Homo sapiens: one gene and its partners. The protein of the gene in region 1 purifies or fractionates together with the protein of each later gene. This does not show direct contact. Each region holds a gene or a part of one and is shown on either strand. Other genes may lie near its edges. The genes, in order: MAFK, CCDC6, DCAF4 and CEP44.

Region 1 (8,513 bases):
AGACCCTGTCTTGCTCACAGCTTCCTGCAGGCTCCTCTGAGAGTCCAGCAAAGCTGGGCGAGATGTCTCCCAGGGAAGGGGAACACTGACAGCCGTGCTGCTCTCTGCTCCTTCCACTGGAAGGGAGAGGCTGCATGGACAGGGGGCTCCGGGTGGGGCAGATGGGGACACTCAGGACTGCGGCCTGACCCTCAGAGACTGAGCCCAGGACGTGGTCACCTGACCAGCACCTCCCCCGTGGCTGTCCCAGCCTCACGGTCACGGCCCAGCAGTCCGGGAAAGCCACTTACACGTAGTGCCCGGATCCTGACCCCGGTGAGGGACAGGCAGGGTCCCCTGGGATTGGGGGGGGGGTGTGGTTCTTGGCCCAAGAAAGCCCCAGCTGAAAGCACCAGCTACGCAACGAAAGGGTCTGAAACCAGAAAATTCTTTATTGCAAAGGTACAAAAGCAGTCACAGCAGCAGGACGCACGGCAATAAATTAGGTGGTGGCCGCAGGGACGGGGCAGGGCGGCGGCGGCCAGACACGGGCCCACATGTGATCTGTTTTCAATAATTTATATCATGATAAAAAGCAGCACAAAAAATAAATAATGAAATGGAACTGCCAAGTAGCACAGAAGCCAGGGTGAGGCGGTGTGGCGGCGTGGCGGCATAGGGGGCCGGGGTCCCCACGCCCTGGAAACGCAAAGACCTGGATCTCTTTGGGAAGCCGGAGGCACGGAGACAGAAAACAAACCCACGTGACAAAGAGTCCCTCGTCTTTTTCTTAAATAAAAAAATCCATATATTAAATCATGACAATGAAATTTCAACAATCTGAAAAGAAAAGCAGAACACACCGTGCTTCCCCGGCCCAGCTCTGGGCGGTGACAGCGGCTCCGTCCACCCTGGGGACCAGGGAGTCCCTTCTCCAGCAAAGCACTGCAGGCCAAGGGCAGGTAGAAGCCCACGGCCCACAAGACGTGGACACCAAGAACCCCAAGACGGGACAGAACCGGCCACCCGCTGCGGCCTGTCCTGCGGGGCCCAGCTGCCTGGTACAGTCCGTGGGGAGATGAAGGGGGACGGCGGGCAGCCCGGGCCTCCGCTTTGCTCCCAACTCCCACCTGTGCCCGTGCCCCCGGCTCTGCTCTGATAGATTTACAGTATCAAACTGGAAAAGAAAGATTGTTACGAAAAATCTGTAGATAAACTGTGAATATAATTTTATATCTCTATATATTTTCTGTTTCTCTCTTTAAATATCCCCCTGGTCCTTATGACATCCAATATGGATTACCTACCACGGCCACGGGGGCAACGGCTGTTTGGGAACACGCAGGCCTTTGCTCTGTAGGGACCCAGTGGTCCTGGCGGGCCTGCAGCTTCCCACTCAACTTCTAACAGTAGACACAGAACCAAGTCGCAGCCCCGGGGCTGTCTGTCCTCTGCCCTCCCAGCGTGGCTGGCACCCGCCTGGGCTCTGTAGCTGGTGGGGGCTGTTACTGGGTGGGCAGGGGCAGCCGAGAAGGAGCCAGGGCCCCAGGCACCACCTTGCAGGTCTTATGTGGCGGCCCCCGGCCGGCGGCTCACATTCCGCCAGCTCCCCCAGGCAGGGGCTCCGCAACCCCCGCGGCTCTCGCTGCAGAGACCCCAGTCACAGGAGGGACCCTCAAGGCGGCTCTCCAGGAAAAGGAAGCCCAAGGTGGAGTGCCAAGCCCACTGGTGCCTCAGTGCTCTTGGAAGGAGGAGCAGGCAAAGGCTCCGGGTGAGGACTGAGTGCTGAGGCCAGCCACACCTGCAGCCCGTGGCTGTGCTCCTGGGGGTGTGCGCGCAGGAGCCACGTCCACGAAGCTCTCCTGGACTGGTGCCTGCTGCCTCCCCACCCGCCGCGCCCTCTGGAGTGCCAGGCTCACTCCTGAGCTCTTCTACAAGCCAGCTGCATCCTGGTCCTGCCCCTCAAGGCTTTCCACCTGCTCTCGCACACGGCTCCCGCCTCCTCCCACCACTCCACGCAACGTCCTCCTCCTTCCACCTCCACATCCATGTCCACCAACATCCCCCAGGCTGCACCCCCTCTCCCTAGACTGCAGCAGCCCTTCCCCTCGCCAGGCCCCCAAAAGACCTCCTCGTTCCCCCTGCACTGACCACAGTTGGTGAGAAGTAGCTCCAGGACACACAGCCTGAGTCCTGCTCACCGTCAAATGATGGGGCGCTCCTGCCTGTGTCCGCTGAGATCCGGGACGGCCTGTGGGGTCGGTGTCTGGGGGGCCGGATCCCGTGGGCAGGGGCTTCTGCGCTGTGCTGCACGACCTCCTCGGGTCACCAGAGCACAGGGGAGACCTCACGACGTGTGAGCCACTCTCTCTGCCATGTGTGCCCACAGGCCCTCCCCCAGTGAACACCAGCAAGCTGCACCCCCTCAGCCCTGCTGCTTTGATGGCAGGCGTGCGTGCACACACACAGACACCACCCCACGCAGGCGACCTCCCACACCGTGCCCACTCACGCAGGCCCCTGCTAAGGCAGACGCGGATCACGGGCACTGCAACGGGACAGCTGGAAGGACGGAGCTGCCGACACACCATCCATGCTCCTCCCCGGGGACTGCGGAGTCGGTCAGGGCAGTGAGGGGCTCCCGCACCGGCTGGGAGGCCGTGGCAGGACAGGTGTCGAAGGCTGCTTACAGCAGGAGTGGAAAACAAGCCCCATGCTAGACCTGACCACAGGGGCCTGACTCCTGGGGCCGTGTCTTCCGGCAGCCCCCACAGAGGACGCGGAACTTCCCGAGGGCCTTTCCATTATATGTCCCGACTCCCACGGGTGCAAGATACCAATTCCCACACACAGACACATCCTGCGGGGAGCAGGTGGCGGGCGTGAGTGTGTCTGTGGACCGGCGTGCAGCTCTGGGCCCACGGGAGCCCACTCTTCACCCTGCAATACAGTCTCTTCCTGGTGTGAGCTGCCTGCGCCCGAGGGGCCTGCGCTTGGACTCGGATGTCGAGAGTCTGCATCCCAGTGACAGGTACGAGGGGTGTGCCCCCACCCGCCTGCCCGCCGCCCGCCGCCCGCCACCCCCCGCCCCCGGCCGGCACTAGGATGCAGCCGAGAAGGGCACGGAGGTGGAGGAGAGCTCGGTGGACTTGACGATGGTGATGACGCTGGTGGTGGCCACCTTGGAGGGCGCCACAGGTCCCCGGGCCACGGTGCGCGCGAAGGTCTGCAGCGCCTCGTACTTGGAGCGCAGGGCGTCCAGCTCCAGCCGCATGCTGCTGTTCTCACGCGCCAGCTTCTCCACCTCCTGCTGCAGCTCCACGCGCTGCCGCTCCAGCTCCTCCTTCTGCGTCACCCGCTTGATGCGGCAGCTGGCCGCGTAGCCGCGGTTCTTGAGTGTGCGCCGACGCTGCTTCAGGCGGGTCACCTCCTCCTTGGTGAGACCCCGCAGGTGCTGGTTCAGCTCCCGCACCGACATGGACACCAGCTCATCATCGCTGAGCACCGGGGCGTTCTCGCCCGCCTCCTTCTTGACCTGGGGGGCCACAGTGCGGGGTCAGCGGCGGGAGAACGTGGGGTGTCTGCCTGGGACCGACACTGGGGTGGCCAGGAACCCAGCGGTGCCCCTGCACGCCTGCGCTCTCAGGGCTGGCCTTCGCCATCCGCACCAGGGACCACAGGACACTGTGCACGCAGGCAGCCCATGTGACAGCTGTGGCCCCACAGGACCCTTTCTGAACGGGAAAAGCCAGTGGTGACATCGGTCACTCCTGGTTACCGACAGCCTCAGAGCCCATGAGGACCCAGAGTGCATGGGTCCTGCTGCTGGGACTGAGCCGGCCCACAGGCACACGCCATTGTGGAGGCGGCAAGCGCCAGGCACAGGTGGGCTCGGGCCTTGGGAGCTGGAGCATCGCGTTCACCAGAGGCCACGCTGGCCACGCTGCCCACGCCTGGAGCCAGGGGATGAGCTCATGCAGTAGCGCCCGGCGGACACACAGCCCAGGCGGGAAGGCAGCAGACCCTGCCACGCCCTCAGCCTGGGAGTCATCGCCTGGAACCACAGTCCCCGATCCTGACTCCACCTCTCCTGTGAACATCCCTCGGCCACAGCAGCCCCCCTCCTCCTGGCAACAGGGAGGCCTCCATCACAGGCTCAGGACGGCCCTGGGATAGCAGGGGCTGTCGGGCCGGGGGCCTTTCCCACGCCTGTGCTTGAGACGGGGCCTGCTTGGAACCAGCCTTACCTTTAATGCCTTATTCGGTTTGGGATTAGTCGTCATAACCCGGGCACGGTCACCAGGACAGAGCTCCCTGGAACTCGTAGCTGGAAAACATGGACAAGCAGAGAAGCCAGCACAGGTCAGGGCCGGCAGCGCCGGACAGGGTGCCCACCTCCCATGCAGGGATGCTTCTCAGCCCGGGGTGGACAGTCACAGCACCATGAAAACAAGACGGGGCACCATCCGGGCCCAGCCCGTCCTGAGGGGCTTCCCAGGGGGTGAGGCATCCTGGCCCGGCCTCTGTCCCTGCCTGAGGGTTCAGGGAAAGGTCTGGCTGCACCTCACACTCTAGCACACTCCACAGAGCGGCTGGGACCCCACCCCAGGGCCTGGCAGCCAGGTGCGGCCCCCTGCTGCCCTGCAGACCTGGGCTGCAGCCGCCGGCACTGTGGGGTGACCAGCAGGCGCCGGCAGTGGCTGCTTCCTGTTCTGACTCTCCCTGAGGTCAGAGAAGACGTCTGCACCTGCACAGCACAAGGTGCCCCGTACCGAGGACCAAAGTGACTGGTGGCAAAACCTCCCTCCCTCAAGACAGCTGTGCCGGCCCCGAGGAGTGTGGGGCCCCGCTGGACAGCGACCCTACACTGGCAAAGGCTCCGGTGCTCCGGACCCAGCCTGGATCCCCGAGAGGGGGCCTCTGGGGAGCCCCTGACATCGCCATCCCCCACGGTGGGCCTGGGTGGAGGCCCAGCCGCCCTCCCGCCCCGCCCTCCCCACAGGCCACGGGACACCTACCACGGCCCTGGCCGCTGCGGCTGTGACATCACCACCTCCACCTAAGCTGCCCCCGAGCGAGGACCCTGCGGCCCAAGGGGGTGTGGGGTTCCTGAGGGGCGGCAGGTCCGGGGGCCGCAGCCAGAGACCAGGGAGGTGGGGGAGCCGCCGCCCTGCCGAGCATTTGACCGTCTGGCGGGAGTCGTCCCCGCCGCCGCCCCCGCCGTCCTCACGTCTGCATTGTGTCACACATTCTAATCATTCATGAAAAACCCAGCCAAAGCATCCCCGGCATGAGCCCTCCGATAGTTGCCATGGCGACCTTGGGACCGAGCCAGCCCCCACGGTTGTCATGGAAACCGAGAAGCCCAAACGCGATCCTGACTTCAGGTCAGGTTGCACAGACATCACGAGGCCGGCAGGCAGTCAACAAACCCATTTGCACCCGGCGGCCGGGACGGGCGGGCAGAAGGCGCCGGGCAGCTCGCGGGACAGGGGTTCACAGCACCCACTCCCATACCCCAAATACCAGACACAGGTTCCCACAGGAACATCAGAGCAGCACACGGCGGTGGGGGGTGTCCTTGGTCAGCACCTCCACTGGACATGGGCATCATGGGGGCGGGTGACCGCATCCCGTCCTCCCTGCCAGCCCAGGACCCTCCCCACACCCTGGGCCAGGGAGCCCTCGGGCCCAAATCCCTCCACCCTCCAGCCCTGCCTCCGATGGGGGCCCCACCCCCGCAACCCACAAACCCCCACAACAAGAGGGCCGCACAGGTGAGACAGGGTCCTGCGCCAGGCTGCCGAGTCCGCTGCCCCTGCCAAGGCCAGCTGATCTCAGGGCGCTGACGTAGATGGCACAGGATGGCACCAGCCGGTCCCGGGGACGGCCAGGTGGGCTCCAGGCTCCTTCGCACCACGTCCTGGGGTGAGGGTGACAGTGGAGAGGCTGGGGCCCAGCTGCCTCCGCCACCGTGGGGACCTGCAAATGCCGGCGGCTGGGAGCACCATGAGAAACTTTTCCATGTCAGAGGGAGGGGCCGCGGGCACCGCTTCCAGCTCCACTGCGAGCACGTCAGTGCACAGGCCGGCCACGACATAGCTATGCGGTGAGTCACCAGATGTTTACAGAGCCGCGCGCATTCCCACACACCCGGGCCTCCCACCCAGCAAGGACCCGCTCCTGGGCCCCCGGGCCCACTGCCCGCCGTGGCAGCACAGCCGGGCGGAAAAGGAAGGTCCGGGGGACAGGACCGTCTGGCCAGACCCACGGTGACGTGTGGGGCTCGGCCAGATGCCAGGGGCAGAGTTCAGCGTGGGGATCTTTCCACTAAAAAGATGCCTCCGCGATGCCCTGTGACACTGCGGAGGCACACGGTAGCCGGGGGCGCCCCAGGAGGGGTGGCTGACTACTTCCAGGAGGTCAAGGTTGCCAGGGCTACTGAAGCACGCCTGTGCCCCGCTCCAACCCCAGTACTTCGAGGCACACCTGCACTGGGGCCCTCTGAAGAATGAGGACCTGGCGGACGCAGGGCTCCCAGGCGGCCCCCACGCTGTGCTCGCAAGCCTGCCCCCCACCTCCTTGGGCAGGTCACGACTCTGCTCTGCCGAGGAAGCCTGGACCAGCCACGCGCCTGGAGAGACGACGCAGCGGGACGGCCCAGCCAAGCAGCAAAGCTTCTCTCAGGAACCCAGCACGGGATGGGATGGTGCTGGCGCCTCCCTCTCCCCACCATGCACAGAATAAATCCAAGTAGCCTTAACCTAATGTCGCTTTAAACATCAGAGGCAAGAAAGATGACAGCTTGCTTTTGGAAGGACATTCAGAGAAGAGTTTTGTATGCACAAAAAAAGTTTGTAAAGCAACTGATCTAAAAATGACGACTGCCCTAAATGGGGTTTTGTGAACTGTCCGACCTCACATGGCCTCCAGGGCCGCCAGAGCACATGTAGAAAGCGCTCCCACCCCAGGGCCAGAGACGCAGCCTTAGGGTGTCATCCAGGGGGAAAGCGTGCCTGGGGTCGCAGAGACGCCCGTGCACTACCCCGGGCCCAAGGCAGGGGCTACTGCATTAGCACCTGGTCAGCACTGCAGCCAAGCTCCCCTCCAGCAGCCCCCGAGGAACGACGTCCTCGCATTGTGTCTTACGCCCAGCAGCTAACAAAACACCAGCATCGCCACGCACAAGCACCCGACACCCCGAGCTCCTCTGAGTTTCGGTGGTCACCAGAGAAGTGCAGTGTTCAGCGCCACAGCGGGGGCCTGGGTGGGCGGGTCTGAGTTTCCGCTGTGGGGCCCCAGCAGCCGACGTAAGTAAGGGTGCAGCGCTCACGCCCCACGTCCCGGGAGCAGCGCCGGGCAGCAAAGTTCTCCGGCACCACCTATAACTTGGAACAGCTCTCAGGTAACTGGTTTTCGGATGGAAGAGGCAGGGTTTTCAACCCAAGGCCAGACACCTCGACGTGACGCAGAACTAAACAAGGCTCAGCGGGGGCATCACTTCCTCTCAAGGAAAAGGAACTGCCAGCAGCCTCAGACAGAGGCAATTCCTGCGGCTGCAGCTGGGGATGAGTGACGGAGCCAGGACGCCGGGCGCCCCTTTCCAGGATCCAGACTGAGGGCCTGGGCTCCATAAAGCGCAGGGCAGGGCGGCTCCGCCCAGGAAGGCACCTTGCAGAGGGTGAGGATCAGAGCCCTGGGCTCCCCCCGGCAGGGCAGGCAGCCCAGGGTCAGTCGTCCAGAACTGTGCTTTCAGGAGCAGGTGATCCCCAGGCAGCCACCTCAGCTTCTGGAGGATCATGTTTTCCCTTTTAATTTTCATTTTAGAGACAAGGTGTCACTCTGTCACCCAGGCTGGAGTGCAGTGGTGAAATCACAGCTCACTGCAGACCTCCTGAGCTCAAGCGATCCTCCTGCCTCAGCCTCCCGAGCAGCTGGGACTACGGGTGGGCACCCCCACACCCAGAGAATTTTAAACTTTTTTGTAGAGACAGGGTCTCACCATGTTGCCTAGGCTGGTCTCGAGCTCCTGGACTCAAGTGATCTTCCTGCCTCAGTCTCCCAAAGTGCTGGGATTACAGGTATGAGCCACCATGCCCGGCCATTTTTAACTTTTTAAGTCCCAGCAAATACTCACTGGTCACCCATGGGCCTGACCCTGCTCAGTGGGGGGCTGGCAGCCTTGGCACCTCTTGCTGTGCTGGCACAAGCTGAGAAGGACCTGCTTTGGGGTCCAGGAGGGAACATTTTCTCCACCAAGTTGGGACTGGGCACAGTGGCTCTTGCCTGTAATAGCAACGCCTCCGGAGGCCGAATGCTCGAGCCCAGTAGTTTCAGGCCAGCCTGGGCAACATAACAAGGCCCCATCTCTACAAAAAAAAAAAAAAAAAGAATTTTAAATAGCCAGTTGTGATGGCACATATGTGCCTATGGTCCCGGCTACTCGGGAGGCTGAGGTGGGAGGATTGCTTGAGCCTCGAAGTCGAGATTGCAGTGAGCTGTGATCACACCACTGCACTCCAGCAGCCTGAGTG
Region 2 (3,500 bases), on another chromosome or scaffold:
AAATGTTGGTAATACCCTATATTTGGTAAAGTTATTAATTCTACAGGCATGAAACTAGTGAAACCAGAGGCTACGTACGCTGTAACTGAGCAGCTCTCAGTTGCTTCTTCAGCCGTTCCACTTCATTCTTTAAAAACCTGATGTGACGCATCATATTTTCTGGAGAATCAATCTCCATGGAGATATCTCTAGGCGATGGTGGAGCAGAGACGGGCTGGTCTAATTTTTCCTGCAGGATTCTTCATTGAAAAGAAAAATTCCAACAATGACTAACAGTTTTCCTTGAAAAGACAAAACAACATACTAGCTGGCAGGTTTGTTTTAAAAGCAAACTCCTGTTTACTGCCAGAATTCACAGGGTTGCTTAATTCCTCTGCCCATTTTACATCAAACTTCTGCCCTTACGTGGTGTCTCACTTCAAAGGGCAGAGCTGATTCTAATCTCCCTTTTTCCTTTTAAATGACTATTAAATGTTTTAAATTAAACAATACTGAAAAGTCTTTATTTAACAACAGGATCTGATAATTATGCCTGGAATACAGTATGCACTTAGAAATACCTGCTGACTCAATGTTCAACTTCTTGGGTTTAGTGCATGAAGATGCTGAGGAAATTCCATTTTCTTACGGCTTTTGATTGAAGCTTCTAAGCTACTATGAATCTCCTTGGAGGGTAAAGTAACACAGAGACTCAACTTCTAAAATTCCCTCCTGCAAAACTAATTGCAAGGGCATGGCAAACTGGACTAGCGGCCCTTTGCTTTTGGCCACAGCAAAGGTAAAAAGTTAAAAACAAAACCAAAATTGTTAGGTTAATAATTAGTAGTGCCACCTTCTTTACCAATTATTTTTATGTTGAAGGATATAAAATACTGATATTCAATAGCTCTGACCTACAAAATGCAAACTTCCATACTGTTCAACCCAATAATTTGGCACTAATACATGTAAAACCTCCAACTGCCTTTTACAAAGTCTTCCTTTGGCAGCAGATCTCTAAATCCCTTTCCATAGCTGCTGGGGTTTTTGTTTTGTTTTTGCTTTGTACCTTTGAGTTTGTCCAGGAGCAAACTGAGTTACCTCCATCCAGGTCTACCCTTGAGAAAACTAGTGTGTTAAATATTATAATGGTCCCTGCATTTATTACATAAAATGACTTTTCGTAATTCAACTTATTAGTACTGCTACAATAATACCTATCAGTAAAGCATAGTGGATATGATTATAACAAGTATTTCTTATAGATATAGCTCTAATTTTCACTTTTCTTAAAGCTATGTGGTATGCCTGTATTTTGCAAATGTAGACATGAACTCAAAACAATTACAAATATGCATCCAAACCAAATACTTAAGGAGGAAGGGCTCTGGGTAGCAAACAAAAGATCTTGGTGAAGTAGATTAATGACCATTTTTAAGAAACTCACTTTTTACACCCGTACACACATTCCACATACAGAATCTTCTTCCCATTCTTACAAGCCCTGCCTCACACACTCCAAAGTACTCAGTGCTTGAAAATAAGGGCTTAACTATCTTGCACAAAGAGGTTTAAGAAATGTTTGCTGTTGAGTGACATTCCACTTCCAAGTACATACATTTTATATAAAGAATCCTAGCCTTAAGTATGTAAAGGTATTTCTTTACAGTAGGTTTTAAAACAATTTTATTATTAAAATCTCAGGCTTCCTAAAGAAGTAAATTCCAGAGATGTATAAATAATAGTACGCAGTATACCCTATGTACTTTACAAAACAACTGAGGAAGCCAGTTCAATAAGGTGGAAAGTTGAAATTGCAACCATTCTTGAAAATACTTTAAAGGTGAACAATAGCAGCATGACTAATTCTCTCATAGCCTTGTAACACCAAATGAAAAGAAATTCTACTGGGACAGTATGATAGCAAAGAATAAAGAGGTGCCCAACATGGGAATAGTTCAGAAGGCTTTCAACATTTTTTTTCCTTTGGCCAATTAAAATGATGTGCATCACCAAAGAATTAAGGTGTCCTACTGCTATTCCTCAGTCACACCCAGAGCAGCAACACACACACACACACACACACACCCATACTGAACAGCAAGACTAAACAAACCGCTTTTCAGCTTCAAGCTTATCCATCCTTTTCCAGAGGCGATTAACTAGTGCTTCTTGTTCTTGTTCCAATGTATTTTCAAGGTCAATCTTCTCCCGTCTCAACTAAAGGAAGGAAAAAAGTGTTACCAAAGTGTCAGGCCACTTATACTTTGTTAATACATTTTTTGATTGAACAATTAGGACCCCTTTTCTTGGAGAATACTGCAAACATGTGGCCAATTTTCTGGCACAAACATATTAAGTGCATCTAGTTCTTAAACTTTGAAAAAAACTAGATAGGTTCATTCTTGGATGTTAATGCTTAATTGTTGTCTGGTACATGAAATGCATTGCTTGTTTCAGCATTTATTCAAGGCAAGTGGAAAGTCCTCCTTAGAGAGGTCTTTAGGGGAGTTCGGTGTACTAGTCATATCAGGACTTTTCTGGGCTTGTCCCTTACAGTTCTGGGCTTACAGTTATTCTTCCGGGCTTGTCCCTTACAGTAAGTCAGAAAGGTTATATTACTATTCATATAAATAACTCTTAAAAGCTCCCAAACACTCTACATACTGGCTAATGGAGATAAATAAACATGTACTAAGATATAAAAACACGCACAAAATATGATAAACACCAAATCCACAATACTGGTTACTCTAGGTTACTCTAAGGATTTAGGGAAGGAAGAAAATTTGATTTGGGGGAGGCTTTGCAGTTGCGGAGGGAACCCCAACAGTGTTCTATTTCAATGAAGCAAACATGGGAAAATTCAATTAATCAATATTGAGCAATATGTAATAAATACTGAGAACAATGACTGGATAATGGGGGCATAGCAGTGAATCAAGGAGTCAGGAATTTCTGCCCTCATGGATCTTCCTTTTAGTGGGGGTCAAGACAGTAAATGAAACAATTATATACTTGTGAAACAGTATGAAACAGATATGTAGAAAAAGAGGGCTGGTAAGAGAGACTGAAAGTGCAAGAGGTTTCATAGCAATGAGTAGAGGACATGTATTCTATCATTCTCCGTACTTGACATATTAAATAATTAAAAATTTTTTCTTAATGCAAAGAGCCTATGCTACTGCTTCCATGTTATTTCTTCAACCAGTGGCAATTCACCTTTCAATGGTTGAGTCAACAAATTATTCTTGATTGCACAAAGATGTTAATAGATTCCACATTTCCTTAGTGGGTCACAGAGGCAAGCTCCTCATCCAAAGATCCCGTGTGTATACATAAGGCAGAACCAAAAACATGAATAAAATGTAGTCTTTTAAAGCAATCAAACATCAGAAAATAATATCCAAAGTGCGGTTTTACTTTTACAGCCAAATGACATTCCCCTTTCTGAAACTCTTCGTAGCTTAGTCTTAAGAAGCAACAATCTCAACCTCCCGAGATGGTTAGTACTACCAACA
Region 3 (8,513 bases), on another chromosome or scaffold:
GGTGCGGTGGCTCAGGCCTATAATCCCAGCACTTTGGGAGGCTGAGGCGGGCAGATCACCTGAGGTCAGGAGTTTGAGGCCAGCCTGACCAACATGTAGAAACCCCCATCTCTACTAAAAATACAAAATTAGCCAGGCGTGGTGGCACGCGCCTATAATCCAACCTACTCGGGAGGCTGAGGCAGGAGAATCACTAGAACCCAGGAGGTGGAGGGTGCGGTGAGAGCGCCATTGCACTCCAGCCTGGGCAACAAGTATAAAACACCATCTCAAAAAAAAAAAAAAAATTTGGTTCTTTATAGAATATGCTGTATTAGTCAGGGTACTGGCAGGAAACATTCAAGTGGGTAACTGCGAGTCTACCTAGTGAGGCATTCTGGGCCAGCAACAGTGAGGTGTGATGACCAGCTGTAGGTCTGAAGGGACAAATGAAGAGTTGCTGGAACCCGGCTCTCTCTGAGCGCTTTCCAATAGAAGTGGTGGGTTTTGGTTACAGCCACCCACAGCCCAACCAGAAGGGAGCCGGGGAACCACTCCCTCTCCTCTTGCCCTCTGTGTTCTACTGCTGCTTCCCACTGGCTGAACCTACCTAGCTGCTGGGAGCCAGGGAACCCTGACCTAGTCCAGAGGTGAGTCTTTTGGGCATGCACAGAGCAGGGTGGAGATGGACAGATGATGAGGGCAGAGTGGGTCTGGAGGGGCCCAGGGAAGCTCTCCAGGAAGGCTATGAAAGCTGGTCCCAGCAGCCCAAGCTCATGATCTCCTAAGTCATTCACAGAAGTGCATGTCACACCATGATTCTTCTCTTGGTTTTATTGTTTGGTAGAAAAACAGGCTCTTTAACACTGAATAAACATCTCACGAACTGTCGCTCCTAGATTACAAAAAGTCAAAACCAATTTCCTTTGACGCCGGGCCCTTGAATCTGACATTCAAGTCACCGTAATAGAAACCAGAGCTGCTGAACCTTACATTCTGGAAGGTGCTTGAACAAAGGCATGTTAAGGACCGTTTAAAACTTCTAGCATGTAAGAAGATCCATCTTTCCTTCCAACGCCTTTGGATAATAACAGCAGAATCCCGGAGATCTGCTGCTGAGTTTGAGAAGGCCAAGTTTAAGGATTCCAAACTCCAGCCTTCAATATTTCTGCAGAAACTTAGAGAAGTAACCTCCCCGTCCTCTCCGCTGGCTTCCCCAAGTACAGATGCAGGATGCAGGTCTTTCTTCCTGCTACCCAGGCACCGAGGACTCAAACCATCTCACCGTCTCATCACTGGGCTTCTTCAATGGGCTCTTGGAGGAAGAAGCTTTTCGTTTTTGCCAATCTTCAGTCCTTAGAAAAGTCCTTTTTGTTAAGAAAAGGCAGGGAGGGTTAACTAAGTTCTAAGAATTCAATAAGAAAAGGAAAGAGGTACCTTTTATGAAAAGGACTTCCAAGCTCTCTCAGCCAGCAATTTAACTCAAATAACTTTCCTGAGCATCTCCACACGGAACATTCAGCACTTCTCTCCTAGCAGCCAGAGGATGGGATCTGTGTACACTGAGTGTCACTTAAAACACCCTCATTAGATGCAGTAAAAAGTTACGCTTTACTCCCGTAAGTCAAATCCACATGGCTCTGGGCTGTGCCCTGCAGAATTAGCTGTAGGAGTAACAGTAAAGGTCCTGCCCGACAGCCATGAGCAGCCCCGGCGCGCCCCGGGAGCCCCCCAGCCGCGACGAGAAGGCCACACTGGGAATGTCGGCCTTGGAGGCAGGGTACGGGGAGGGTATGGTTCTCAGTAGGCGGGCATCGTGGAGGCTCCAGATTCTCGTGTAGCAGTCCTGGCCCACTAGGAAAGAGGAGAGACACATGGCAGGCTAGTGAGAGAATGCAAAGGAAAACTTACCTACATGTGGACATGGCTTCCCAAGATTCCTCAGGGCTGTGATTTCATGTGAGCCAAAACACAAACTCATTAACGGACAGTATTTCTACGGATAACCCAAGTCGCCCTGTTGTGCTAGAACAATGACAAGATGCCCTGGTTGGCTGTGTGATGCCATGAATGGCTCGGAGACATCCTGGCTAATGTCTGGGTATTCTGCTGCTCTTGATGTCACGGAACGTTCAAGTGCGAGTGTGGCCCACCTGGTCTAGGTGACATGCAACTGATTTCCCCCATTTTTTAGGGACAGGGTCTTGCTCTGTCGCCCGGGCTGGAGTGCAGTGGTGTGATCAGGGCTCACTGCAGCCTTGAACTCCTGGGCCCAAGCCATCCTTCTGCCTCAGCCTCCTGAGTTAACTGGGACTACAAGTGTGTGCCGCCATGCCTAATTTTTTTTTTTTTTGAGATAGGGTCTTGCTGTGTTGCCCCAGCTGGTCTTAAACTCCTGGCCTCAAGCTCCCTAAGTGCTGGAATTATAGCTACCACACCTGGCCTGATCTTTTCATGTTATAGTAAAAGATCTGTCAAAGTCATTACATCCTGGGGATGGGCTAGGTTGACAACTCTCCCCACAGCTCTTTCTGGTTTAATGCTTCAGTTCCTAGGACCGGTTTAAGTCTTCAGGGCTCCAGTTCTGAGGACTGTGACACACAACAGCATGGGTTACAGCAGCCCAGAAACATGATATACACTACTGGAGACCTTCAGCAGGAGAAGAGGACAGGCCTTGGGCAGTCATGGATTTCACATTTGTGATTCTGATCACTTGTGTGGCTCTAAGACCAGAAGTGCTATCTTGGCTGAAGCTGAATCCCGGCTGCAGTTTATTACTGCAGCTGGTAACTACCTGCATCTGCCTCTCAGCAAGGCTGAGCTCTCTCTATCATCCAGCTCACAAGAGCTCTTCTGTGATAAAAACAGGTGAAAAATCGACTTAAAAAGGAGGCGAAGTCCTGGTGTTGATGAGAATAGTAAATAAGTCTATGAATGTCCTAACAAAGTAATGCTTCCTAGCCACAAAAATGTTCCATGGGGTATAAGCCCTTTCTATAGGAATACCAGTAGAGGTGACAATTCTTGAAGACTGAGAACACATTCTGCAGTGTCAGCAGCTACTATTTCAGTGTGAAAGCATTGAGCCTGCACACTGTCTGATTACGCTATAGCCACCATCATCTGTAATCAACTGGTAACTCCCTTCCAGGGGGCTTAGTGGCCAGATAGCTGCTCCTAATCTGCAGATCATGGAGCCACAGGGATGGTAGTAAAGGGGCCACAAATCTTTTTTATTTATTTATTTATTTTGAGACGGAGTCTCGCTCTGTTGCCAGGCTGGAGTGCAGTGGCGTGATATCGGCTCACTGCAACCTCCGACTTCCTGGTCCAAGCAATTCTCCTGCTTCTGACTTCCGAGTAGCTGAGAGATTACAGGCAGGTGCCACCATGCCCAGTTAATTTTTGTATTTTAGTAGAGATGGGGTTTCACCATGTTGGCCAGGATGGTCTCAATCTCCTGACCTCGTGATCCACCCTCCTTGGCCTCCCAAAGTGTTGGGATTACGGGCGTGAGCCACCGCGCCGGGCCGGGGCCAAGAATCTTTACAATGACCATAACTTCTTTTCTCAGCATCCTCTGGTGGAAATGTGAGTAGAGACAACAGGGAGCCCAAGTTTTTGGATAAGATAGTTGCGTGGTGGAATAATGCTGGCCTGATGAAATCCACTCAAACTCCAAACCCAGGCTCCCCAGGACCTCCCCACCTGCCTGTTTCTGAAGTGACGTTTGCCCACTGACATGGGATGAGGCTGTCCACCTGGTGGACATTTATTTACACTCCTGATTACTAATATAATCTAATTCTACTTCCCTCCTAGTCTCCCCACCCAGCTGTCCACACTCCCCTTGATTCAGTTCTGTTTTGGGGTAACTTTTCCCTCTGCTGCTGAAGTTGCTGGGATCGCCCCTGAGAGACAGTATTTGATGGGGTGGAACTTCCCCTTCCTTCCTCAAGTACCTGCCACCAGGATTCCTTCTTCCTCGTGCACATGCAGGGGCAGGTAGGCGTACTCATTCACGTGGCCTTCGTACTGCCTTACGCACTTCGTGGTCCTCAGGTCCCACAGCTTGATCTGTGGAAAAAGCACCAGGGGCCATCAGGGAGGGGCCAGGGGGTACCATGGTGGTCCCCAAGTGCAAAGCCAGGAAGGCAAGGTGGTCTCCAGTGGCCTGTGCAGGTCATGAAGATCTCCATCTCGAATTCTTGAGCCTTGTTGTTCATCAAAAGCATGTAACCAGGCCGGGCACGGTGGCTCATGCCTGTAATCCCAGCACTATGGGAGGCCAAGGTGGGCAGATCATGAGGTCAGGAGTTCGAGACCAGCCTGACCAACATGGTGAAACCCCATCTCTACTAAAAATACAAAAATTAGCCGGGCGCAGTGGCGGGTACCTGTAATCCCAGCTACTCAGGAGGCTGAGGCAGGAGAATCGCTTGAACCTGAGAGACAGAGGTTGCAGTAAGCCAAGATAGTACCACTGCACTCCAGCCCGGGCGACAGAGCAAGACTCCATCTCAAAAAAAAAAAAAAAAAAAAAAAAAAGGACATAACCAGAGAATCCTTTTCACTTTTGTTTACGTCAGATTAGGCTCATATGGTCAACGAAGCAGTCCCCATGCAGGGCCTACAAATCACTTGGTCTTCAGCGAAATTCCCCTGCCTGGGGTCTTGGTGTGAGGACCTCTTCAGCAGAACCCTTTCACCTGGCAGGGCACTGGGCCACGAGACCCTGTGGCCTGAGAAAGTCCATGATCCCCTACCTTTCCAGCCATGTCTGAAGCCATCAGGTATTGCTCATCTTGGAGGATCCGCACAGAGGTCACTGCTGAATCATGAAACAGGCGGGTGGCCTTCCATCCCTTGCCTTGATTTCCACAACGCAGATCAATGGCAAAGATTTCCCCAGAGCGGCAGCCATTAAACAGCAGAGGAGCCTGTGGAAAGAGGGACTGCTCAGTGCCTGGCTATCATGACATCCCTCTGAGGCTGGGCAGGGCAGGTCCTCCTGATACAACCCCTCTTCCAGCCTCTGGGTCAGACGGTGTGATTAGACACGTGCTGGTCAGGGTTTGGGTCTCAATGGAGTTGGAAGGGAGGATGATTCCTTGTTAGTGGCTAGAAGAACCAGACCCCATGTGTCCTCCTCATGGGTAGCACGGAGGTCCTAGGAGCTGCCCCCCACCCCCCTGCACTGTCCCGTTTGGCCTTTCTCTCTGAAGTCCCAGAGATAGCATTCCATCTCCACCAAAAGCAGGTTAGTGGGTTCATTCACTTTTAAGGGAAGACGGCATTTTCTAGAGAAAAGTCTGTGAAATATAGTAATGACCACAATTTTTTTTTTTTTTTGAGACAGAGTCTTGCTCTGTTGCCCAGGCTGGAGTGCAGTGGTGTGATCTTGGCTCACTGCAACCTCCGCCTCCCGGGTTCAGGCAATTCTCCTCAGTCTCTCGAGCAGCTGGGATTACAGGCGCCCAGCACTATGCCTGGCTAACTTTCGTATTTTTAGTAGAGAAGGGGTTTCACCATCTTGGCTAGGCTGGTTTTGAACTCCTGACCTTGTGATCCACCCATCTTGGCCTCCCAAAGTGTTGGGATTACAGCCATTCATTAGCCACTGTACCTGGCCTGATTTTTTAAACATATAAAATATATAACCTGGGAGCTGTGAAGAATTGGTGTTTGGCTTATACATTTTAAAAATGGTTTGTCCTACTGGGTAAATCCAAGTACCCAAGAACTGCTCACAATACCTTTCCATGAGAGGTTGTGTAGAGCAACTCAGGCCAGCCTTTCTGGATCAACCAACTTTCACTCGGCTCAGACACCCTTACAAAGGAACCCACTGATCCTTTCTGATGCTCTTTCTCCCCTGTCAAAGAGTACTAGATGGCACACAGAGGAGTCCAATTTCAATCTGGCCAAATTTCTACATGGGGCAAACTTTTATATTCTGCCTGTCCCAATCCAACCAACCATGAGAGCAAACTGCTGGGCCAAGACATCACTGTTGGTCCCAAAGGACTGCCGGTGTCCCGTCACCACGTTGGTCAACAGGACCCGCCGAGACAAGCCTGGCGGAGACAGAGATGGGCTGGTAAGATTATGTCACATGTAGTCTGGGGAGAGGGACAACTACATGGGGTTTTAAGGCCTGTTAAGGCCTCTTCTCTGGGCACCTGGGGAGCCAGGCTCACCTGTACTGAAGCAGTTATTTGCTTGGATATTCAGGGACCAGGCACAGGACCAGGCACCAGGGATCCGGAAACTGCAGAGCATGCCAGGCCGGTCTATTCCTGCTAAGGGGATAGGAGAATGTAAAGTGTGGCTGCCTTCTAGGCAGGCCAGGGACCACTGGGTTCGGAAAACATCCAAATATGCCCATAGCTGCTCAGAGGGTCTATACCTTTGGCCCCATTCTGGGTTTTGTGGTTGCAAGAGAGACTCAGCTGGGATGCCTGGCTCACAAGTGGTTATTCCGAAAATGCATCTTTGTTAACGTTCCCAGTAGTCGTGTTTACAGTACGAATAGTACTGATATCAGGGAGGTAGTATACTGTTGGAGGTAAGGTGGCTCCGATCCTCGATCACCTACCAGCTATGTGATCTCAGGCAAGTGTGTGTGTATATACACACACACACACACACACACACACACACACACACACACACACACAAATAAATAAATAAATAAACTATATATATATATATATATATATATATATATTTTTTTTTTTTTTTTTTTTTTTTAAGACAGGGTCTTGTTCTTTTGCCCAGTCTGGAGTGCAGTGGCGTGATCATGGCTCAATGCATCCTCAACCTCCCAGGCTCAAGGAATCCTCCCATCTCAGCCTCCCAAGTAGCTGGGATCACAGGTGTGAGCCACCACACATGGCTAATTATTTATTTTTTGTAGAGATTGGAGTCTTGCTATGTTGCTCAGGCTGGTCTTGAACTCCTGGGCTCAAACGATTATCCTGCCTTGGCCTCCCAAAGTGTTGAGATTACAGGCATGAGCCACTGTGCTTCGAAAAAATATTTTTTAAAATAAACTTTTGCATTGATAGAACGTACAGATTGTAAGGATACAGTTCAGTGAGTTATCACAAACTAAATATAGCCATGTACCCACCACCCAGGTTAAGAAATAAAACAATCCATGCCAGGCGTGGTGGCTCACGCCTGTAATCCCAGCACTTTAGGAGGCCGAAGCGGGTGGATCACCTGAGGTCGGGAGTTCGAGACCAGCCTGACCAACATGGAGAATCCCATCTCTACTAAAAATACAAAAATCAGCCGGGTGTGGTGGTACATGCCTGTAATCCTGGCTACTTGGGAGGCTGAGGCAGGAGAATCGCTTGAGCCCCAGAGGCGGAGGTTGCGGTGAACTGAGATCGTGTCATTGCACTCCAGCCTGGGCAACAAGAGTGAAACTCCATCTCAAAAAAAAAAAAAAAAAAAAAAAAAGGCCGGGCATTGTGGCTCACACCTGTAATCCCAGCACTTTGGGAGGCCGAGGCAGGTGGATCACGAGGTCAGGAGTTCGAGACCAGCCTAACCAACATGGTGAAATCCCGTCTCTACTAAAAATACAAAAATTAGCCGGGCGTGGTGGTGTGCGCCTGTGATCTCAGCTACTTGGGAGGCTGAGGCAGGAGCATTGCTTGAACCTGGGAGGCGGAGGTTGTGGTGAGCTGAGATCGTGCCATTGCACTCCAGCCTGGGCAATAAGAGCAAAACTCCGTCTCAAAAAAAAAAAAAAAAAAAAGACAAGACAAGACATAAAACAATCCAGTACCCCAGAGGCCTCCCTCACATCCCTTTCCCAATTACTACCTCCCCAAAGGGTACTGTGAGCCTGACCTCCAACACTAAAAATTACTTTTGTAAGACAAATTCTGAAACTGTCTGCCTCAGTTTCCTTATCTGTAAAATGGTGGTAAGACACACTCCTGCCTCATAAGCTTGCTGTGCAATGAAATACCAGGCACTGGGCTAAATGTGCATGATCTCACCTAATTCTCCACGGATGTGGACTGAGAAGGCCCTGTCCACTTTAGAGAGGTTCAACATTCCATTCAAGTTGGCAAGGGGCAGAGCTGGGATTCGTGCCAGGTCTGCCTGAAGCCCACACTCTTAAGAGGCCTCTCACCCTGGTCTTATTGATCCTAATTTTCTGATAGACTGAAATGTAATATCCAGAATGCTGTCAGGAAGGAGGAGTCAAATTGCCTTAACGTAGGCAGACTGTTAAGTATCCCTGATAGCACCTGAGGTGCTTTGGACCTTCAGAGGTGTTTTCTGAATGATGTGCACGGGCGTCCGAATCTGTTCTGAGCTCACGCTGGTTTACATGCGTGTTAAGTCTGCTCTGGCTGCTGAAATGACTGAAATGGCCCAAGATGGGTAAAAAGGGGCAGATGCTGTAAAAAAAACACATGCTTCTGGTACTAACCCTGGGACAGGCTTAGGGAATCCTCCCACAGTGCCTCTGCAGCGGCCCCATACTTCTCTCTAAGCCACCCCCA
Region 4 (8,513 bases), on another chromosome or scaffold:
CATGGAACACTGTATTCCTGATAAAGGCAAAACAAATCTGGAACCTCACAAAAACTATTCCTGATTTAATATGATCCTAAACCCAGAGTAGTAAATTATTGCTCTCTGCATTCAAATGAAATCAAACCCTATTTCCAAGTAGCATGTATAAGGTATAATGTGTAAGTCTTTATAAACTTGAGTCTTTTAATTAATCTAGATCAGATCATAAACTCTATGAGACCAGGTATTCAACCTAATCATAATCTGTAATCCATTTCAGATAGAGGCCTGTTAATTACTTTCAGTCCTGGCACAGTTGTTGAAATTTAGCTATGTGAACCCGGACATGTTAACTCACACCTGTAATCCCAGTACTTTGAGAAGCAGAGATGGGAGGATTGCTTGAGCCCAGGAGTTCAAGACCAGCCTGAGCAACATAGCAAGACCTTGTTTTACTAAAAACAGTATGTAAATAAATAAAAAATTATCCAGGTGTGGTGGCACGTACCTGTAGTCCCAGCTACTCAGGAGGCTGAGAAAGGAGGATCACTTTAAGCCAAGGAGTTAACATCTAGGAGACTGCAGTGAGCTATGATTGCACCACTGCACTCCAGCCTGAGCAGCAGAGTAAGACCACACTTATCTCAAAAAAATTAAAAAATTAAAAAAAAAAAACTTAGCCATGTGTTTTCTAAATAGGTTAAAGGTATATTCTATAATCATGTCATTAAAAAAAAATAAGCCTGAGCATGCAAAATCAAACTTGAAAAAGGCAATGTTTTGCAAATCACAAGCATTCAATATTCTTTCAGTGAATAAATATTTAAACTCTACTATATGCAAATACTGGTGATAAAAGCACCGACATACTTTCTGTGTGCTAGACAGGCAGACCATAAGATAAAGTTTTTGCTCTCAAGGATCTTATACTCAAGCATTAACATTTGTTGAATAGATATATGAATGGATAAATAAAACAGGCAACATTTTACCAAATCTGAAATCTGCAGCCTATAATAAATTTAGTTGCCTTAAATAGCATCTCAAATAATTATACTTAACAAGCTAATCACTGAAATTGTTCTTTGTGCAATGATATTGATATGTGCTCCAAATATGCAGCAGTCAAGAAAAAACTTCAGATCAGTTGCCTGGATTCAAATTTGATCTACAATTCAATAACTGTGTGACCTTTGCTGTAGTTACTTAATTTTGCTGTACTTCAGTTTCCTCAACTGTAAAATATAAAAATAGTACTTATCTTGCAATGGTTACTTCAAGAATTAAATGAGTTAATATAGTAGTTAGAATCGTGCCAGGCACACTGTTAGTGCTAGAATATATATTATTTTATTGTTACACATATAGTAGAGCTGAAAGATTTTATAACGTTAACAATCCACAGATATTAAAAATTTAACTTAACGATGAATTCTCAATTGGACAAAACATCTCTTCTATAGCTATGATTTAATCATAGATATGGCACAAAATTTAGATCTTTTAAAAATACATAACAATCAAAACAAAGCTGTCACTGAAAAACAGAAATCTTACCCTTGCTGCTCAGTCACACTAAGCAAAATATCAGTAGCCTAGTAAAGTGACCAGGAAAAGACCTATCCTAATATCAGATCTTTCCCATTTTATCATTATCAGTGAACTATTCACATGGAAGAAGTTTGCAATACTTTATAGATACTGACAAATGTGTTTTCTTCTCTTACATATTATTATTTACATATGAGAAAGCTACTACCTACCTAAGCTTAAATTTAAAAACTTGGAGGCCAACATTAATATCCTAGAGCACTTGATTATTCTCGAATGATTAAAACAGTAAAATATCTCTAAAAATTTTCAATTTTGTACACTGAAATTTATTCACCCACTATGTTATGTGAAATAAGTAGGCTGGTTAGTTAAGCAATTCTTGGCTTTAGTAGTCTGTAGGTTCATTATGTTCTTTGTTCTAGGAGCTTTGCAATTTCTAAACAATAAAGCTTAAGAATATTAAAATTACTATAACAATCATTTTTCTGAAAACTCATCATACCAATTCTCATAGTATTTACAAACTTACGAGGATTCAGAAGGTCCATGTCACTACAAGAAGCGTAGTCTTCACTAACTTCATTAAACTCTATAAATTCATCATTCTGGAATAACACAGTTAAATATTTAGAATGAAATAAAAAGAAAAACCCTCTCATTTTATATTCTTAATGCTGAGCATAAAATATAAAGGTAGCATGATAAATGTTTAAATATTTTTAATTTTTTATTAAAGCAATACATATACTGCATATTCCTACATATAAGAAATGTTTTAAATATGGAAGCAGATAGCAAGCTACTTGACTTCACCTTCTAGGAAGGAAAGACAGACCAGAAATTGAAATCCTGAGTAAAAAAAAACAAATTTCTCAGATTTGATAAGGCAATGGTAAATCTGGTAACTATTCTATGAAATTCACAATATGATTGAAGTAAATGAGTGAAAAAAAGATGGGAAGAGTTACCTATATCTTCTGTATCTTTTCTACCCTATGAAAATAGGTTATTTGTACTATTAAAAGATATAAAATAATTTTAAGCTTTTCATATCTATCATATTCTTACCTCATTTTAAATTCTTCAAGCATTATTAACATCTGTAAAAGCTCAACTGACAAGTTTTTCAGATTATCTTATTCAATGAAGAGAGAAACAACAGCCACAACAACATACAGGCTATATTTAAACAGGACTTCATTCTAACTAGACATTTTCTCATTATTCAAATATTCTCATATTTAGCATTTCCAAAAAAATACACATATAACAATCAAAAAAAAACTTTGTTATATCTGAGATATTTTATAAATGTTAAAGGAGGAAAATACCTTTTTAGACAAAAGCATTTCTGTTTCAAGAAGAGTGACACGACTAAGAAGATTAGTCCAGGTGTTTTCATCTACCATCACTTTTCCTTTCATTTTTTGTTCCAAACAGTCTAACCTTTTCTCTATCGAAGTCAGTTTCTTAAGATTTTCTTGGCATTCAGCAAGCATAGTTTGTAGTGCAGTAATCTCAGGATTAACATTTACATCCTAAAAAGGTTAGAGAGATTAAAAATAAAATTAAACAAACTGAAATTTCTTTAAAATTAATGTATTCTCACTTCCACAGCGTTATCTCAACAGTTAGGAGAGACCGTCCTGCTTGAGAGTTAAGAGAGCTATCTCTGGATGGAGACTACTTGGCCACTTAAACCAGTTCTGAGATTTATGATCTTGATGCCTCCATTTCCTCATTAAAAAAAAAGAGATAAGAGCAGTATCTATTTCATATGATTCTTCTGATAATGAGTTAATTTGCATGATTCTCTTAATACCAGCTAGTAAAATAAAACTATTATTAACTAGCTTCTTGAAACAACGCTTAGCACAAAGCTAAGAGGAAATGACCAAAAACAACACTTAGTGCATTGAGATTGTTCGGTTTGCCATATAACAGGAAGTAGGTCCAATGGCCATCTGGTAGTTTTTGTAAGTGCCAACTGTATATTGATATACTGAGATATATAGAAATCACAAGACATAGAAACACAGAAAAAGAAGTCTTAGCAGAAACAGTAGAGATCAGACATATTGGGGTCTGTGGCAATTAAGAGTAATAGAAATGGTTTTTTAAGAGAGACAGAAAATAACAGCAGGGACCCAGAAAGGAAAATGAATAGGCAATAAAGTGCCAATCTTTTCCATTCACCAATAAAGAAAATAGGTGGTAGAGAACCTCCACTATGCAAAGTAGCATATCGCTATGTCTCACTAAATTGTAGATTCCTTAAAGCCAAGTACCATATCTTATTCTACTTTGCATCACCCCAACACTTAGCCCAGCACCCTACACATATGCAGCAAATATTTGTTGAATTATTTTAGTAAGACTTATTGACACTTCAGTAATTGTAACATAGATAAAATGTCATGATTAATAATTCAAAAGGCTAGAAATATTCCAAAGTTTAGAGGCTGAAATAATTACACATATTTAAGTAAAAAATACTGGCATCTATTTAAAAAGTCCAAAGTTGTTACCTGTTGCTCAGCCTTGATTTCAGGAACCTTTACTTCAGGCATCTTTATTTCAGTAGCATTTAAGTCAGACACATCAACTGCTTCATTAACATCTGTTATTGGACTTAATGTATCCTCAGAAATGTCAACATTATCTTCATTATACAAGTGACGAATCACCACAGCTTTCTTCTGCATAGAGAAAAATATGTAAGAAACACTTCAATGTTTTCCTCCCACAATTATTTATTTTTTAACTTTTAAGTTCAGGGGTCCATGTGCAGGTTTGTTACACAAGTAAATGTGTGCCATGGGGGTTTGTTGTGCAGATTATTTCATCACCCAGGTATTAAGCCTAGTACCCATTGGTTATTTTTCCTGAACCTCCTCCTACCCTCCACCCTCTGAAAGGCTCCAATGTGTTTTGTTTCCCTCTATGTGTCCATGTGATCTCATCATTTAGCTCCCACTTACAAGTGAGAACAAGTGGTATTTGGTTTTCTGTTTCTGCATTAATATGCTAAGGATAAGGGCCTCCAGCTCCATCCATGTCTCTGCAAAGGACATGATCCCATTATTTTTTACGGCTACAGAGTATTCCATAGTGTGTATGTACCACATCTTCTTTATCTGCTCTATCATTGATGGGCATTTAGGTTGATTCCATGTCTTTGCTATTGTATTTAGCTTGATTCCATGTCTTTGCTATTGTGAATAGTGCTGCAATGAACATATGCATGCATCTTTACAACAGAACAATTTATATTCCCTTAAGTATATACCAAGTAACGGGACTGCTGGGTCAAATGGTCTTTAGGTCTTTGAGGAATTGCCACACTGTCTTCCACGGTGGTTGAACTAACTTACACTCCCACCAACAGTGTATAAATGTTCCTTTTCTTCCACAAACTCACGAGCATCTGTTATTTTTAGACTTTTTAATAATAGTCATTCTGAGAAGCGTGACATGGTATCTCATTGTGGTTATGATTTGCATTTTTCTAATGATCAGTGATGTTGAGTTTTTTTCATGTGATTATTGGCTGCATGTATACCTTCTCTTCAGAAGTAGATGTTCATATCCTTTGTCCACTTTTTAATTAGGTTGTTTTTTTCTTGTAAATTTGTTTAAGTTCTTTATGGATGCTAGATATTAGGCCTTTGTCAGATACAAGTTTGCAAAAATTTTCTCCCACTCCGGAGGGTGTCTGTTTACTTTGCTGATAGTTTCTTTTGCTGTGTAGAAGCTCTTTAGTTCAATTAGATCCCATTTATCAACTTTTGCTTTTGTTGGAATTGCCTTTGGCGTCTTCGTCATGAAATCATTGCCGACACCTATGTCCTGAATGGTACTGCCTAGGTTGTCTTCCAGGGTTTTTATAGTTTTGGGTTTTACATTTAAGTCTCTAATCCATCTTGAGTTGATTTTTGTGTATGGTGTAAGGAAAGGGTCTAGTTTCAATCTTCTGCATATGGCTACCCAGTTATCAAAGCACCATTTACTGACTAGGGAATCCTTTCCCCATTGCTTGTTTTCATCAGGTTTGTTGAAGATCTGATAGTTGCAGGTGTGTGGTCTTATTTCTGGGTTCTCTATTCTCTTCCATTGGTCTATGTGTCTGTTCTGGTACTAGTACCATGATGTTTTGGTTACTGTAGCCCTGTAGTATAGTTTGAAGTTGGGTAGCATGATCCCTCCAGCTTTGTTCTTTCTCCTTAGGATTGCCTTGGCTATTTGGGTCTTTTTTGGTTTCATATAAATTTTAAAGTAGTTTTCTTTAGTTCTCTGAAGACTGTCAATGGTAGTTTAATGGGAGTAGCATTGAATCTATAAATTGCTTTGGGCAGTACAGTCATTTTAACAATATTGATTCTTCCTATCCATGAGCATGGAATGTTTTTCCATTTGTTTGTGTCATCTCTGATTTCTTTGAGCAATGGTTTATAGTTTTGCTTGTAGAGATCTTTTGCCTCCCTTGTTAGCTAGATTCCTAGGTATTTTATTCTTTTTGTGGCAATTTTGAATGGGAGTTTGTTTGTGATTTGGTTCTCAGCTTGACTGTTGTTGGTAGATAAGATTGCTAGCAATTTTTGCACATTGATTTTGTATCTCAAGACTTTGCTGAAGTTGCTTATCAGCTTAAGAAGCTTTTGGGCTGAGAAGATCCTCCTACAATTATTTTAAACATACAGCAATTTTGCAAAAGGAACACCAATCTTTAAAAATTAAAAAAAGTTTAAATTATCACATATAATATATATATCAAAATATTACCATTACTAACATTACCAATAATTTATGTGTGATGATAAAATTGGGGTTATGACTTTTAAAACAATTCTTACATTTTAGGACAAGCGCTGAAATATTTATTAAATTATGTCTGAGATTTGATTTAAAATAAAGACAAAACAAGATTAGCAAAGAGTTGATAAATTGCTGAAACTGGATGATGGGTATGTTTGTAAATGTTTGAAATGTTCCATAATAAAAAGTTATTTTTAAAAAAGATTGCCAAATAATTCACTTATAAATAATCAAAAACTGGCTCTATGAGTAGGGCTCATTACAATTTTTCTGTTAAACAAACTGCAATTTATTAGACCTTCAGCTAACAATTCAAACCTAATAATGACAACGAAGAAGTCCTGACAAAAAAAGCATTAGGTCACGGTATGCATTTACCTAGAAATCCTCTACCTGCTTCCTATTCTACAGTTTGCATACACACTATAAAAACATATGTGACTCAGAAGCGCAAATAGGCATACTATATAAGGCACTGGGATAGGAGACAATTTGCTTTAATATTGACTCAACTTTTGCTTGTAAACAAAGAAATGTACTTGTAGACTCTTTTCTAAATCTGAGAACTTTTAATACTTATTCAAATTTCTGATAAAGATCTGGTATAAATTTTAATAGATAACAAAGAAAACTTTGCTTTAAGAAAATTAAAAATAAGTCTAATGTTTTGAAGTTTACATTTTTCTTGGCTAGGACAATTTACACTGTCCCCTCAACTCTCATACTGAAATAGAACATTGAAAAGCACATTATATCAATAAATAATTAATAAGTGCTCACAGTGTTCCTAATCCTGTGCTAAGCAAAATGAAGGTACAAAAAATCAGTATAAGAAAATCCCTGTTCATATATGTTCCTTCTAGTTGGGGAAGAATACAAGATATAAGTCATTTAACAGTTAGAAAATCATAAATAAAACTAACAAGAGTTAGATGAGTTAGAGATGCAAGTGTACAAAAACTACATGCACTTATTCAAAAATGGCGGCTTTGTATCATTCTTTATATTGTCTTCATTACCTAGAGCAAAACAGGTACATTAAAAAGAAGTGGCATAAGAACATTTTCTTATAATAAAATTTCACTTTTTTAAGGTATAAAGGAATAAACATATTTTTTTGAGATGGAGTCTCGCTCTGTCAGCCAGCCTGGACTGCAGTAGTACAATCTCGGCTCACTGGAACCTCTGCCTCCAGGGTTCAAGCGATTCTCCTGCCTCAGTCTCTCAAGTAGCTGGGGTTACAGGCACCAGCTACCACGCCTAGCTAATTTTTGTATTTTTAGTAGAAATGGGGTTTCGCCATGCTGGTCAGGCTGGTCTCAAACTCCTGACTTTAGGTGATCCACCTGCCTTGGCCTCCCAAAGTGCTGGGATTACAGGCATGAGCTACTGTGCTAGACCCAAGAATAAATTTTTAAAATAGATTCTGTTTACATAACTCATGTATTTTGGATTAGGGCAGAAATAATACTCTAGATTATACTTCAGTCAGAAAGTATTCACATCCTTTACTTAATTACACCATTGATAATTCATCTGATATTCTATCATTCAATCAGAGTCTTCTCCAGCTGGAAGACAGCTGAAAATATATTAATAAATAATATTTTAGCTTAAGTCTCCCTTAGTGATAGAAACACTGTAGCTCTAAGTGCATTAGATTCAATTTGCCACAGCTGCTCAAAGCAGATAATGGCAGAAAAATTATCTTTCAAGAAAGAGAAAATATTCAAAATATTAACTGAAAACCAGATTCTACGTGTAGGGACTACCAATTATTGGATAATTCATACTTGGTTACAGAAATATAATGTACATAAATGAATCATTATAACCTATCACTACTGCTAATGTAGGCTCTTCATATGTTCCCATGTTTTAGGAAGACCAGAACACAATTAAGAGCAAATGTAGATAACTGCATAAGATAATCTTCCTAAATCACTACTCTTCTGTTTAGGAAATCCGGCAGAATTAGAAATTAGAAATATAAAGAGAACACGTATTTAATTTTATATTTCTATCCTATTGTTATAACTTCAGGCATACTGCCCAAAAATATATGGCATGCACTGTTAAAAATCAATGAACTCCAATATCTAACTAGAATGTTCATCAGGTGCCAATCAGAAAAGTGAAAACTGTATATTGGATTAATTAGA

The links.
Region 2: the proteins of MAFK (region 1) and CCDC6 purify together in Homo sapiens (affinity purification with mass spectrometry; one large-scale study listed by BioGRID and IntAct). This does not show direct contact.
Region 3: the proteins of MAFK (region 1) and DCAF4 purify together in Homo sapiens (co-immunoprecipitation; one large-scale study listed by IntAct). This does not show direct contact.
Region 4: the proteins of MAFK (region 1) and CEP44 purify together in Homo sapiens (affinity purification with mass spectrometry; one large-scale study listed by BioGRID and IntAct). This does not show direct contact.

Annotation. Positions count from the first base shown.
Region 1 is NC_000007.14:1,534,942-1,543,454, reverse strand, and holds the end of MAFK (transcription factor MafK), read right to left. Parts: intron 6,009-8,513; exon of another isoform or gene 4,998-6,008; intron 4,307-4,997; 5' UTR 4,263-4,306; coding exon 4,227-4,262; intron 3,515-4,226; coding exon 3,080-3,514; 3' UTR 412-3,079; downstream 1-411. UniProt on the Homo sapiens protein: Since they lack a putative transactivation domain, the small Mafs behave as transcriptional repressors when they dimerize among themselves.
Region 2 is NC_000010.11:59,812,557-59,816,056, forward strand, and holds part of CCDC6 (coiled-coil domain-containing protein 6), read right to left. Parts: intron 2,200-3,500; coding exon 2,096-2,199; intron 240-2,095; coding exon 79-239; intron 1-78.
Region 3 is NC_000014.9:72,951,932-72,960,444, reverse strand, and holds the end of DCAF4 (DDB1- and CUL4-associated factor 4), read right to left. Parts: intron 6,285-8,513; coding exon of another isoform or gene 6,282-6,284; coding exon 6,183-6,281; intron 6,060-6,182; coding exon 5,962-6,059; intron 4,923-5,961; coding exon 4,749-4,922; intron 4,060-4,748; coding exon 3,945-4,059; intron 1,834-3,944; coding exon 1,640-1,833; 3' UTR 742-1,639; downstream 1-741. UniProt on the Homo sapiens protein: May function as a substrate receptor for CUL4-DDB1 E3 ubiquitin-protein ligase complex.
Region 4 is NC_000004.12:174,304,411-174,312,923, reverse strand, and holds part of CEP44 (centrosomal protein of 44 kDa), read right to left. Parts: intron 4,236-8,513; coding exon 4,065-4,235; intron 3,075-4,064; coding exon 2,868-3,074; intron 2,142-2,867; coding exon 2,066-2,141; intron 1-2,065. UniProt on the Homo sapiens protein: Centriole-enriched microtubule-binding protein involved in centriole biogenesis. In collaboration with CEP295 and POC1B, is required for the centriole-to-centrosome conversion by ensuring the formation of bona fide centriole wall.